Linked DNA regions of Homo sapiens: region 2 is linked to region 1. The links come from fine-mapping of genetic effects on gene expression. Tissue or cell type: whole blood. Region 1 holds a variant in brackets; the other region holds the start of a gene. All regions are shown on one strand. Distances are from middle to middle.

Evidence for each region. PIP is the estimated chance that this variant, and not a neighbour inherited with it, causes the effect.
Region 2: it holds the start of SMAP2, and the variant in region 1 is fine-mapped to the expression of SMAP2 in whole blood (INTERVAL, PIP above 0.99).

What each region holds. Positions count from the first base shown.
Region 1 is chr1:40,396,884-40,404,067 of GRCh38, forward strand. All of the region lies in intron 1 of SMAP2 (small ArfGAP2), which reads left to right. Among named protein-coding and RNA genes, the nearest start is that of SMAP2, 27 kb to the left of the region's middle. The variant CA/C (reference allele first, on the strand shown) is at 2,818.
Region 2 is chr1:40,370,379-40,377,562 of GRCh38, forward strand. It overlaps SMAP2 (small ArfGAP2), which reads left to right and starts at 3,349. Exons shown (of 10, transcript NM_022733.3): 1 at 3,349-3,845. The coding sequence starts at 3,743. RefSeq lists silencers at 3,092-3,411, 3,482-3,621 and an enhancer at 3,607-4,106.

The DNA.
Region 1 (7,184 bases):
AACTGAGGTAACTGGCACTAGATTTGTTCTTAAAACAAATACTGCTGCTTTTTTTACTTTGACTTCCAAATTTTGGGTCAGAGTTAATGACAAGTTATGTCACGTAGAATTAATCTCTTATAAAATCTGAGTTTGTTGATTTAGGTTTTTCCTTATATGTATGTTGCATTTAACCAGTTTTCAGTGCCTGGTATAGGCTCCATGAACCAAATTTGATTCCGTGTTTTAGGTTCCTCAAGACCTAACATCTTCATAGATTGTTTGTTTCATTTTACGTTTTCAGAACCATTGAACGGTAAGCAGGAAGGGACCTAAAAATTACTGCAAATCATCTACTGTAGTAGTAGGACTGTAGTAGTAGAAAGAACTGTAGGGCTCATTGTTCACCCAATTCACCACATGGGGATCATTTCTCTACCATCCCTGAGAACTGATTACCAAACCTCTGTTTGAACACTGCACTAACTGAGATTTTACAATTTCTGGATATGCTGCATTGGTTTTTACACAACCTTAATTGTTAGAAAATTTTTCTCTAGAGTGTGCTAAAATCAACTTCTACTCCTTGGTGCCAGTTCTGCTTTTGAAGCCTTTCCAAAGTAACCTAATCCGTTTTCTGTGTTACAGCTATCCTTTAAGGCATTTGAAAACTTCTCCCTTCATTTTGCAAAACAGGAAAAATATATACATTTATGTTGCTTATTGACGAATTCATTTAACACACATTTATTGTGTACCATCTTCTGTTTGCTAGCATTGTGTCAAGTGTTTGTGATAAATGATGAAGGAACATGGTCATTGCCTTCCAGAGCTCATAGTCTATTTAGGACAAGAGAGACCTGTAAGCAACTCGAACAAGATATTAAGTATTAGAAGAACAAAGCATACCCTGGGCTATTAGCAATAGAGAAAGTTAGGGTTTATTCCATTGGAGGGCATCACAGATGAACTGGATTTTTAAGTTTGTCAAGCAGGGAATGAGGGAGAAAGCCATTCCAGGTAGAAAGAATGGTGTAGTCAAAGAGATTTGAGTGTGCTGCATATTTCACAATTATGACTTCCTCAGCATGTGTAAAGTACAAGGCTCTCAACAGACTTTATATATTATGTTAAGGAGTTTCAACTTACCCTGCAGCCAGTAAGGAGCCCTGGATGCTTACGTTGTTTTGTTTTTACGATATCTGTACTGGTTTTTCCCATTGCAAAATTAATAGAAAGCTCATTGCAAACAATTCAGAGAGGATATATAGAGAAGAAAATAGATGTTTCATTATCCCATTATCCCGATATAGTAATAATTTACATATAGTCTTCTAGATTTTTTTTCTGTGCATACGCGTACATTTATTTATTTATTTATTTTTTGACAAGGTCTCACTCTGTTCCCTAGGATGAAGTGCCATGGTGCAATCATAGCTCATTGCAGCCTTTGAATCCTTGGGCTCAAGCAGTACTCCCGCTCAGCCTCCCAAGTAGCTAGGACTACAGAGGCATATCACCACACCGAGCTCATTTATTCATATTTTAAAAAAAATGGAATTGTTTCATGTGTACTCTTTTAATACTGGATTTTTAAAATTACTATATCATGGAGATACTTTTATATGAAATAGAGGCTCCAAAATTTTTCCCCGTTAAATGGTGATACCATAATTCCTTAATGTAACCTATTAATGTTTCTAATTTTCATAAAGATGTAATAATGAACATTCTTAACGTATTTCTTTGTGTACTTGACCTGTTTTTTCCCTGATGAATTCTTACAAGTGGGGTCAAAGGATTTACTTAGTTCTTTTGTTTTTTTGAGATAGGGTGTCAATATGTTGCCCAGGCTGGCCTCAAACTCCTGGGCTCAAGTGATCCTCCAACCTCAGCCTCCTGAATAGCTGGGACTACAGACATGTGCCACTGCACCTAGAATACTTAGTTTTAATTAATCTTTAAGCAAATGTTGCTTCCCTGCTATGTTCAAGGAACCATGCTATGCCGTGAGTATATGATAGTGAATGTTACAGGTCTGGTGACAGCTCTTGTGGCACACATAGTTAAGCGGGAAAGACATCTTAAACAATCAAATAATTAGATAGTAACAAAATATGGTATGATTTAGAAAAAGTAAAGGGTGGCCAGGCACAGTGGCTCACTCCTGTAATCTCAGTGCTTTGGGAGGCCAAAGTAGGAAAATCACTTGAGGCCAGGAGTTCAAGACCAGCCTGAGCAACATAGTGAGACCCTGTCTCTTTTTTATTTCATTGATTTATTTTTATTTTTATTTTTTTCAGACAGAGCCTTGCTCTGTTGCCCAGGCTGGAGTGCAGTGGTGGGATCTCGGCCCACTGCAACCTCCGCCTCCTGGGCTCACGTGATTCTCCTGCCTTAGCCTCCCAAGTAGCTGGGACTACAGGCATGTGCCACTACGTGTGGCTATTTTTTTTTTTTTTTTTTTTTGTATTTTTAGTAGAGATGGGGTTTCACCATGTTGGCCAGGCTTGTCTCAAACTCCTGACCTCAGGTCATCTGTCCACCTCTGCCTCCCAAAGTGTTGGGATTACAGGCGTGAGCCACCGTGCCTGGCCCATTTCTTTTTTTTTTCTTTTCTTTCTTTCTCTTTTTTTTTTTTCCTGACTCTTAACACCACTCAATGACCCATCTTTACAAAAATAAAAAATTCAGCTGAGCGTGGTGGCTCATGCATCTAGTCCCAGCTACTTGGGAGACTGAGGTGGGAGGATTGCCTGAGCCTGACAGCCCAAGGCTGCTGTGAGCTATGATCGCACCACTGCACTCCAGCCTGGGTGAGAGAGTAAGACCCTGTCT[CA/C]AAAAAAAAAAAAGAAAAGAAAAGAAAGAGTGAAAAAAAGAGTAAAGGGTAAATGAAAGTTCATAACCTTTAAAAAAAAAGTCCTTATCTTTTAGAGATATATGCTGAAGTATATACAGATGAAATGGTATGATATTTAGGATTTGCTTCAGAATAATCCAGGTTGGAGTTGAGGGGCAGTGGGTGGGAGTATAGCTGAAACAAAATTGGCTAGGAGTTGATAATTGCTGAAGCTCATGGTTAATTATGCTCTGCTTTCGTTTGTTTGAAATTTTCTGTAAGGTAAAAACCAAAAGAAAGGGTAGAAGAGATGTTACAGTCGGGTTTAGACTGGGGAGCCAAGGAAAGACTCCTTTGAGGAAGAAACATTTCAGCTGAGACCCTTGTGATGTATAGGAGTTGGCCAGGCTGCAAGTGGCATTTGGCAGTTAGGGAAAGAGTTTTTTTAGGCAGCAGGAGCAGCATGTACAAAGTCCAGCAAGCCCTGAGGAAGGAACATGTTGGTCCCTTGAGGAAATGAAAGAAGGCTGCTACCATAGGAATTGAGAGGCTGCGGAAGGAGGCATGGGCTAGACCTTTAAGACCTTGGAAACTATGTTAAGGATTTTGTTATTTAATCCAATAGTAATAGAAGAATTTTAAGCAGCACAATGTGGCTTTGCTTCTTTAAGAGCTCAAGTTGGCTGTTTGGTGGAGAATGGTTTTGGTTTGGGCTCAAGGGAGAAGAGAATGTAAAAGTGGAGAGAGAGCTATTAGGAGGTTATTGCAGTGGTCCGAAAGAGTCTGGTGGCTTTAGATTACAGAAATAGTGATACAGATGGAGAGAAGAGATACTGATTTGACAGATATTTTTGTCTTGGTGATGTGGGGGCTGAAGGAGAGAGGTTTCATGATGCATAATTTTCTGACTGACGCAATGGAATGGATGGAGGTGTAGTTGACTAAGATGAAGAAAAAAGGAAGAGATTTTGTAGCAAGAGATTGAGAGCTTAGTTTGGAATATGCTATTCAGAAAATGTGCACCAATTTACATATTTACCTTTGTGTATGAGACTACATGGAAGGTTTATATTTAGAGGTGTGATCTGTACAGATTTGTGTTTTAGAAAGATTATTCTGGTGGTGGGATTCTGGAGACTAATTGCTTGTTAGTCTGTGAGCTTTTTGAATTGAGGAATCTCATCCTTATTTTCTCTGCCTTTGTATCCCCAGTACTTAGCAGGCAAATTGCTTGGCACATAGGTACACAATAAATAATGTTAAGAGAACCAATGCTGGTTGGGCGCGGTGGCTCACACCTGTAATCCCAGCACTCTGGGAGGCCGAGAAGGGCGGATCACTAGGTCAGGAGATCGAGACCATCCTGGCTACCAAGGTGAAACCCCGTCTCTACTAAAAATACAAAAACAAAATTAGCCGGGCGTGATCGCGGGCGCCTGTAGTCTCAGCTACTCGGGAGGCTGAGGCAGGAGAATGGCGTGAACTCGGGAGGCGGAACTTGCAGTGAGCCGAGATCGCGCCACTGCACTCCAGCCTGGGTGACAGAGCGAGATTCCGTCTCAAAACAAACAAACACACACAAAAAAGAACGAATGCTTATAGGTGAGACATGAGGTCTAGGTAGAAATGGATAGATTCTGGAAAAGTTTCCAAGATAGATTCCACAGGATTTGGATGGAAGATGGGAAAGTTCTCTCCCTTCGCGTAGCCTGCCCGTTGAACTTTTTGACAGGTCCGTTATGCCAGCAGGTCTAAATATAGGTAGCCATCAATTTATCAATGTTTTTTCCTCCTCAATATTTATTTGTTTGGAACTCCATAGATTAGAACTCAATGATATAATTATTATAATATTAGTAGTAGCTTGAAGTCCTCCATCACGCTAGTTCCCCTTTTCTGTCTGCTGAGTTGTCAATCCCAGAGCCCCTCTAATCCTGGCAGCTTTGGTGGTGGGGGAAGTTTCAGCAGCAAGAGGAATTTGCAGCAGTAGTTACTCCGTATGTAGAAGCTGTCCAGATGTTGAATATAAGTTGGATATTACGTATATGCTTTTCATTTTACAAATGGAGACATAAGCCCTAGAGAAACTTGTCAAAATACATGCAACAGGTCCGTGTAAACCCAGATTTTTCCGATACTGAACTGGTACTTAGGACAGTTGATTTCTTGACTGATCAACCAAATCCATCTCCATCTACTTTTTTCATTTTCCCTGATCCCTTATTGCAGAGTGATTCTATGTTAGTTTTAGTATTGCTTGATGCTGCCCACGCCTGCTCTTAGGCTCCTGTTGAATATGTGCACTTATGTGTGACCTTGTTCTTGTGTTGTGCCGATCACTACCAGTTTACATCACTTGTCTATCCTCTTTGCTTTCAAAATTGTTTGGCATATTGCCTCTCAGCATTTCTTTTCATTTTAAATTTCAAAATGGCATCTTTTATATTTTTTTCCTTGATTGCCATGACCAATGTGTATTAAACAATTGGTTTATCTCTTTTTATTGATACATAATAGATGTACATGTTTTCAGGGTACAAGTGATATTTTGATACATTCACATAATGTGTAATAACCAAATCATGATAATGCTATATCCGTCACCTTAGACATTTATCTTTTCTTTATGCTGGGAATATTTGAATTATTCTCTTCTACCTATTTTGAGATATATGGTAGATTATTATTTACTATAGTCACTGTACTGATTTATTGAACACTAGATCTTATTTCTTCTAACTGTATTTTTGTATTTTTGTTTTTTTTTTGAGACAAGGTCTCGCTGTCATCTAGGCTGGAGTGCAGTGGTGTGATCTCGGCTCATTGCAACCTCTGACTCCTGGATTCAAGCAATTCTCCTGCCTCAGCCTCCCCAGTAGCTGGGATTACAGGCACGTGCCACCATGCCTGGCTAATTTTTTGTATTTTTAGTAGAGATGGGGTTTCACCGTGTTGGCCAGGCTGACTAACTGTATTTTTGTACCCATTAATCAACCTCATTTCTTCCTCCATCCGCCTACCCTTCCTGGCTTCTAGAACACCGATTTACTCTCTCTTCATGAGATCCACTATTTTTTAACTCACTAACATTTGCAGCAACATGGATGGAATTGGAGGTCATTATGTTAAGTGAAACAATTGGTTTCACTTGCATTTTTGCAAGTTTACCAGATTAAAGTAGGCTGGCCTTATAGCAGCAATACCAGGTACTGTGGAATCCAAGTACCCACCACTTAGGTTGACAGCCTTGGGCCTTCTTTCTTTGCCTGTGTAGTGGGGGCATATGCAAGCACAAGGGCAGGGTGGGGGTGTGTAGCAGAGAAAGGGAACAGGTGAGGGTTTAAAAAGTGCATTTTCAAGAAATATTTTAAGAGAAATAAAGGAAGCTGCTTAAATTTTCATGTTGCCTAGAAGACTTTGAAATTGGGTCTAGGGTAAATTTCTTCTCTCTGTATTCAGTTCATTTTGGTTCTGATATTTTAGGACCAGAACTCATATTCCTTTTTAAAAAAGAAGCACTCTGGCTGAGCGCGGTGGCTCACGCCTGTAATCCCAGGCCTTTGAGAGGCCAAGGCGGGTACATCACCAGAGGTCTGGAGTTTGAGACCAGCCTGGCCAACAAGGCGAAACCCCGTCTCTACTAAAATACAAAAATTAGTGGGGTGTGGTAGCACGCGCCTATAGTCCCAGCTACTCGGGAAGCTGAGGCACGAGAGTTGCTTGCACCTAGGAGACGGAGGTTGCAGTGAGCCAAAATCACGCCGCTGCACTCCAGCCTGGACGACAGAGCGAGACTCTGTCTCAAAAAAATAAAATAAAAAGAAGCACTCCGTGGTGTTGCATAGAGTGTTGGTATATATTACATATATGAATGAGTTAACTGGCCCTTATCAGGAAGATGGATGGGAAGTGGGTTCTGGAAACCTTATTCTATACCACATCCTTATATATAGTCCTCAGTTATTGTCCCTCTGTGTTCTAGGGCACTGTGAGGTGAATGCTATTGTACACGTTTTATAGATGAGGAAACTAAGGCTCAGGAAATGTAAGTATCTCTCAGAAGGTCACACAGGTAATCACTGAAGGAGCTGTGCTCAAACCTAAGTCCTACAACTGGCAGAGTGTGGTTGCTCCCACCTGTAATCCCAGTGCTTTGGGAGGCTGAGGCGAGAGGATTCCTTGAGGCCAGGAGTTCACAACCAGCCTAAGCAACATAGGGAGACCTTGTCTTTAAAAAAATTAAAAAATTAGCTGGGCATGGTGTTGCATGCCTGTAGTCCCAGCTACATGGGAGGCTGAGGTGGGAGAATCGCTTGAGGCGAGGAGTTTGAGGTTACAGTGAACCATGATCTTGCCTCTGCATTCC
Region 2 (7,184 bases), 27 kb before region 1:
TCATGCTGCTATAAAGACACATGCACACGTATGTTTATTGCGGCATTATTCACAATAGCAAAGACTTGGAACCAACCCAAATGTCCAACAATGATAGACTGGATTAAGAAAATGTGGCACATATACACCATGGAATACTATGCAGCCATAAAAAATGATGAGTTCATGTCCTTTGTAGGGACATGGATGAAATTGGAAATCATCATTCTTAGTAAACTATCACAAGAACAAAAAACCAAACACCGCATATTCTCACTCATAGGTGGGAATTGAACAATGAGATCACATGGACACAGGAAGGGGAATATCACACTCTGGGGACTGTGGTGGGGTAGGGGGAGGGGGGAGGGATAGCATTGGGAGATATACCTAATGCTAGATGACGAGTTAGTGGGTGCAGCGCACCAGCATGGCACATGTATACATATGTAACTAACCTGCACAATGTGCACATGTACCCTAAAACTTAAAGTATAATAAAAAAAAAAAAAAAAGAAAAGAAAATTCTATAACTGGCCAGGCGCGGTGGCTCATGCCAGTAATCCTAGTACTTTGGGAGGCTGAGGTGGGCGGGTCACGAGGTCAGGAGATTGAGACCATCCTGGCTAACAGGGTGAAACCCTGCCTCTATTAAAATACAAAAAATTAGCCAGGAGTGGTGGCACGTGCCTGTAGTCCTAGCTACTTGGGAGGCTGAGGCAGGAGAATTGCTTGAACCTGGGAGGCGGAGGTTGCAGTGAGCCGAGATCGCACCACTGCACTCCAGCCTGGCGACAGAGCGAGACTCGGTCTCAAAAAAAAAAATTTTATAACTAATGTGGAAACAGTTTTATGATAAGATAACATGTGCATGATGGAACAGAGTGAACATTTTTGCAAGACTAGTCAAAGCAAAATTCAAGACTTCAAAAAAAAAAATGTGTACTTGGGAGGAGCAGTTTGCTTTGTTTATATCCTCAGACCCTGGGCTATGCACTCACTTTACTCTGCTATTAGTAATGATAATAAAAAGAGCTAATACTTGATGTATCTGCTAGGATAGGCTAGCTTATACAGTGGTAAACAAACAAAACTCAATGGCAACACAATGCTTATTTCTTGCTTATGCTAAGTTATCCTCTATGGGCTGGCAGAGAGCTCTTGTTTATCAGCTACACAGAAATCCAGGCTAATAGAGCAACCAACATCTTCAGCATCAATAGTTGCCATGCCAGAGGGAAAGAGAAGCACAAGAGGCTCAAAGCAACAAATAAATGCTTCAGAGACAAAGTAATCCATCCTTTCTGCTCAAACTCATTGGTCTTTCCCAATCACTTGAAGGCCAGGAAATAAAATCCTACCATGTGCTCAGAAGGCAAAACGCCAGAAATATTTAGTGAAGAGCGCTAATTGTCTATCATTCACTATCTACCAAGGGCTGTTCTAATTATATTACAGGCATTATCTCAGCTAAGCCTCATAATAATCTTGTGAAATAGGTACTATTAATGTTATCATCATTCCCATTCTATAGATGAAATAACTGAGGCACCAAGAGGCTAAGTAACCTGCTCAAAGTCACACAGATAATAGGTGGTAAAAGCTGAAGATTTAAACTTAAGCATTCTTGCCCCAGAGTCTGTGTGCTTAACCACAAAGCCATGAGATCTCTCACTAGGTGGGAACAATTTGAGAAACACTGCCATAGGCAATGGAGAGCCACTAAAGGATTTTTTAAGCAGGAAGTGTGAGTCCATCAGAATTGGCATTTAAAAGCTCCCTCTAGAGAGCACGGTGAAGGATTAATTTAACCAGATTTAGACTAAGGCAGGAAGGCTATTTGCAGAGTGAGGAGATGAAGATGGGGAGGGCTTGAACTAAGGTACAATCACCACTCACCGCAATTAACTGGGTTTTGTTGTTGTTGTTGTTGTTTGAGACAGGGTAACGGGGTACATTGGGGGTTGGAGGGGTGGTTCTTACTGTGTTGCCCAGGCTGGATTCCAACTCCTGGGCTCAAGTGATGCTCTGGCTCTGGCATCCTGAGTAGCTAGGACTACAGGTATGTGCCACCACACCCAGTAACTAGTTAATCTTGACTGTCTATTTCAACTGAAAAATGGTTATGGTAATACCTACTTGGATGGGTTTTCTGAGGAAAAACACCCCAATGAACTTGTGTGTTTTTAAAAGTCAAGTCCCCTAGGCATGGCTAGAAGGGAAGAGGCTTAGCCAGAAAATTTAATTGTTGTGATTAATAAAGTAATAGAAATGTTTAGTTTTCCTCTGATGAGATGAAAGCTTTGAGGGGATCCTGGTCTTGGGAGAAAGTAAAGAAATGGAGGAGAGGGTTTCACCAGAGTTTAGATAACTCTTAGCATCTGCTTACTATCTTCCCTGATTAATTATTTCCATGGCAGCCAGAGTGACCTTTTAAAACCACAAATCGGATCATGCTGTTTCCCTCTCCCCTAGTACAGTGCCTGATACTTAGAAATTTCTCAGTAACATCGTGCTCAGTGAATGAATGAATGAATGAGTGAATGAAAACACAAGCCAGATGGCAGGTGGATCCCTAAGGAAAAGGACAGCCAATGAGAAATTATCTGTAGCAACGGTGGCTTTGGATGATGATGTTTAATAATCATTTTTAAGGAGTTGCCTGTTGTGTGCTATGCTTTAATCACTGTCCCCCACCCTTCCCAAATAACGTTCAGTAAAAGTCTGCCACAAAAAACTCGCTGTTTTGTGAGAATTTAAGAAATGGAAGAAGAAACAAACTGTCTGGGCACCAGGCCAAACAATATCCAAAAAGGCAGGAGTCACAGAGGAGAGCTAATGAGTATTAGTGGGAGCAGGTATTCCAAGTGAGAGGTGACCAGAGTCCTCTGAAAATGTGGGGAGGGGGTGACGTTCCTATATCCTGGGTTAGGGGCTTGGACTCTTATATTTGGCTGTTGGAAAAAACAAGCTGGAGGACTTTGGGGTATCAACAACCCTCAGGTTACATAAGGATGATCATAGGGTCGTTGTGAGGATTATGTTGGGATAGTTCATGCAAAGCGCTTAACACAGTGCCTAGCGCATAGTAAGAGCTCAGTAAATGTTAGTTGTTGTCTTCCTTCACTTTCTTCCATTCCCTCCACTCCCTTTCTACCAGGCTCCATTCATTCTCTTCCAAGGACACGCAGGGGGCGTGCCCACCCCTTCCCTCCGCCCCCACCCAAGGCCCGCCCCCCGCTTCTCCACGGATTGGTTCCCGAGAGGCGGAGCTGAAGGAAGAGCCCAGTGCGGCGCGGTGGGGGCGGGGCGCATGCGCGAGCTGGGCAGGGTGGAGGTGGGGAGGAAGAGCTGCCGGAAGTAGGCGGTGGAGGTGGTAGCGGAGCTGACGGCAGCTGCCAGGGAAACCGAGGCGCGGGACGCAAGGCCAGCAGACAGGCCGGCCAGAGGGTCATCTGCGTCCGGCACCCAGGAGGCTCGTGGTCCGCCTTTGCCTGGGCTGAGGGTCTCTGGCCCCGCAGCCTCTCTTGGAGGCGGGCCTGTCCCTAAGCCCGCCAAGGGGCGCCGCGCCGAGGGGCTGCGGAGTGGGGGACGGACGCCCCCGACCCGGGAAGGGGCGTCCGGCGGGGCCGGAGGAGAGGGCTCTCCCCGCTCAGGAGGTGCCCCTGGGCGGGGGACCGGGAGTCCTCAACCCCGGACTGAGGCAGGGGTCTCTGGGGGCGAGGAGGGCGCGTCGCCCTCTGCCCCCGCCGGCACCCTGGCCATGACAGGCAAGTCGGTGAAGGACGTGGATCGGTACCAGGCTGTCCTGGCCAACCTGCTGCTGGAGGAGGATAACAAGTTTTGTGCAGATTGCCAGTCTAAAGGTAGCGCATCCCACCTGGCGGGCCAGGGGTCCAGCCGCGCCGGGGTGGTGGGGGTGGGCTGCGTGAAGAGGCGGTTTCTGAAGCTTAGGCCGCCCAACTCGGCTTATAAGTGGTAACGCGTGCTGCGCTTGCAGTGAGCCTACTGGGCTTTCTGCAGCTGGGGGATTGGTATGGGTAGAGCTTGCGAGGGCGAGTCTGTGTGTGTCGGGGAGGGTGGAGGTGATGGTGCGGGTGGAAGTTGCCTGGCGTGTTCAGGTGAGAATGTCTGTATTTGAGGGCTCTGAATGAGTTCTGGGCCGGCTGTCCAGAGAGAGCTCCCAGCATGTCACTTGCAAAGCTGGGGATGAACTGCATTGCGTGCGTGCGTGCGTGCGTGTGTGTGTGTGTGTGTGTGTGTGTGTGAGAGAGAGAGAGAGAGAATGACGAGGAGGAGGAGGAGGGAAGTGAGATGGCGGAAAGGAAAACTGCTTAAATGATTTTTAAAGGTGGTGATTTTTGCTTCCTGCTATTTGGTTAGCAACTCCTGTCATTTTGCAGCCTTGCTAAGATCTGACAAGAGTGCTTAGGTGACTTTATTCTTCTGGATGTGTGCAGTGGGAAACTGCCTTATGCAGTGACACAGTGCGGATTTCTAGGCAGTGTAGCCCTGGCTTGTAGAGTGCGTTGGAGGCCTATGTATGAGTGGTGGCAGAAACTAGCCGATTATGCCTGTAGTGCAGGATCCGTTTAATCAGTGGAGAGAGAAAGATGAATTCGATGAATTCATTGCTTCCATGGCGATTACACTTCTAAAGGTGAAATATGATCATTGTAAATTGGCAGAACCATTTAGTCTTTGTTTTCTGTGCCCTAGAAGATTCATGATTTGATACAATTAAAAGTCAGTACAATAGGAAATCTTGGTTATTAGTGAAATGTTGGCACTTGACATTTATACAAGCTTCTATGAATCTTTTTTTCCTGTATTTTCTAATTCTTTTGGCATATAATTGGAGGATTGGGAAAATTATTTTCCCTTTGGTTGGGTCGAAATGGATAGTTATATTTTGGGGGCGACAATTTACTTTTGTTCATAATGCAGTGGATTTGCCATGGTTGTTTGCCGTACAGCGTAGTGGGCATATACTATAAAACAAAGATTCAGTTATATTCGTATTTATCTATTTTGAGAAAGGAAGGACATATTTAATTGATGCTTTCACTTAATTACCTTTTATTTTTGAAGAATAAGGTTATAAAAGGAGAACAGGGGAGGGATACATAGACACCTAGTAATGTATTTTAGTGACCTCTACCAACAGATAAATGGAATGTGCCATTAGGAAAACAAATTCCTAGACTTCTTTCCTGAATTTTTGCATTAGCAATAATTCATTTTAAAAAGTATTTTAGAATCAATTTATGTTGAGTAGGTTAGCTTCTTGATTCTTGTTACATCTTCTGTTAGGTCTATTGGAAGATTTGGTTTATTTTAGGAGTGTATCTTGGCTTTATTCAAATTCCCTTATGTCCTCATTTGACAGATCTTGAGTCACAGTGAAGCAACCCACTGGAGTGAGCATTGCTGCATTTGGAGAGTCAGATGCCATTTTGGTGACTAGAACCCCCCCCCCCATTTCTCATATTACCCTTATACTTACTCATATTCCAATAAAATACAGCACATGGAAGAGAGAGGCTGATTCACTACTTCTTCCTCCAAATTTCCATTGCTTTTTATTTATTTTATTTTTTATTTTTATTTTTTGAGACAGTTTCGCTTTGTCGCCCAGGCTGGAGTGCAATGGTGCAATCTCGGCTCACTGCAACCTCTGCCTCCCGGGTTCAAGTGATTCTCCTGCCTCAGCCTCCCGAGTACCTGGGATTACAGGCGCCCGCCACCATGCCCAGCTGATTTTTGTATTTTTAGTAGAGACAGGGTTTCACCATGTTGGCCAGGCTGGTCTTGAACTCCTGACCTCAGGTGATCCACCCGCCTCAGCCTTCCAAAGTGCTGGGATTACAGGTGTGAGCCACCATGCCCAGCCCGAAATTTCCGTTGCTTTTTATTAATAAGCTTACTGGGGATCAGGTTATGAAATATCAGTTAATTCTTAATGAGAACTAGTAACTGCTGGCTTGTAAACTTTATTAACTACTGTTGATGGTAGAATCCTGGATCCTCAATTTCTTTTCAGAAGTTCGTTTTACATTTTACCAGGTGGCTTCAGGGACTTGGTCATTGTATTAAAAATGAGATGACAATGGGTCAGTCATCTTTAGATTATGACAAATAGGCATTTGTTGAGGCCTCTGTTTATCCAATTTATGAATTACCTATCCCATTCCACCCCTCCAAGCCCTCTCACTCTTTTTCCCCTGCTGTTTTCTAATTTTGGTTGTCATAATGATCATTTGGACAACTATCAGATTGTTGAAGGAAAAGACGTTTGGATCAATAAATTGTTACCTGTTAGCGCTGATAAAAAATACATTTCATTGGAGGAGGAATTTAAAAAGTGTTGGCTAAAATGAGAATTGGGTTTCAGTTTATTTACCTGTATTCCTGTGTCCTTTCCTAAAAAATTGGAAGTTAACTGTACAGGATATGGTGAGTGATTGCTCATCTATTAATATCCAGTTAGATGATGTGGCATAGACTATCGACCTATGAGCAGGTATTTTTGCAATGTTCCAAAATATAACTCTTTGGCAATGACTTTTATTTTTAAATTCTTATACTTATTTAGGAACATTTATTAGTTGACTTTCAAGGTATGTGATTTAAACTTCGGAATAGAGGCTGGGTGTGGTGGCTCAAACCTGTAATCCCAGCACTTTGAGAGGCCAAGGAGGGAGGATCACTTGAGTCCAGGAGTTCAAGACCAGCCTGGGCAACATAGTGTGACCTTGTCTCTACAAATAGTTAAAAAATTAGCTGGGTGTGGTGTTGTGCATCTGTGGTCCCAGCTACTCAGGAGGCTGAGGCAGGAGGATCACCTGGGCAACTGAGCCCAGGAGGTCGAAGCTGCAGTGGGCCATGATTGAGTGCCACTGCGCTGCAGCCTGGGTCAGAGAGCAAGACCCTGTCTCTAAAACAAAACACAACAAATAAACATCAGAATAGAGAACAAGCTTGTGTTCTTTTTACTTCGTACAAGTTTTGTTGATCCTGGGGTTTTTAACTGTCCTGGGCACGAGTCTTACCAGTTTCTGGGACCACTAAACCATTCCAGTAATTTCAGTGTGGGAAAGGAAACTGCTTTGGGGCTGCCTATTTAAGAAATGCTATGATTCTCTCTAGGCTCAAGATGTGATTTCTTCATTACCCAAAGCCCTGGGGTTAATGTGACTTTTAGG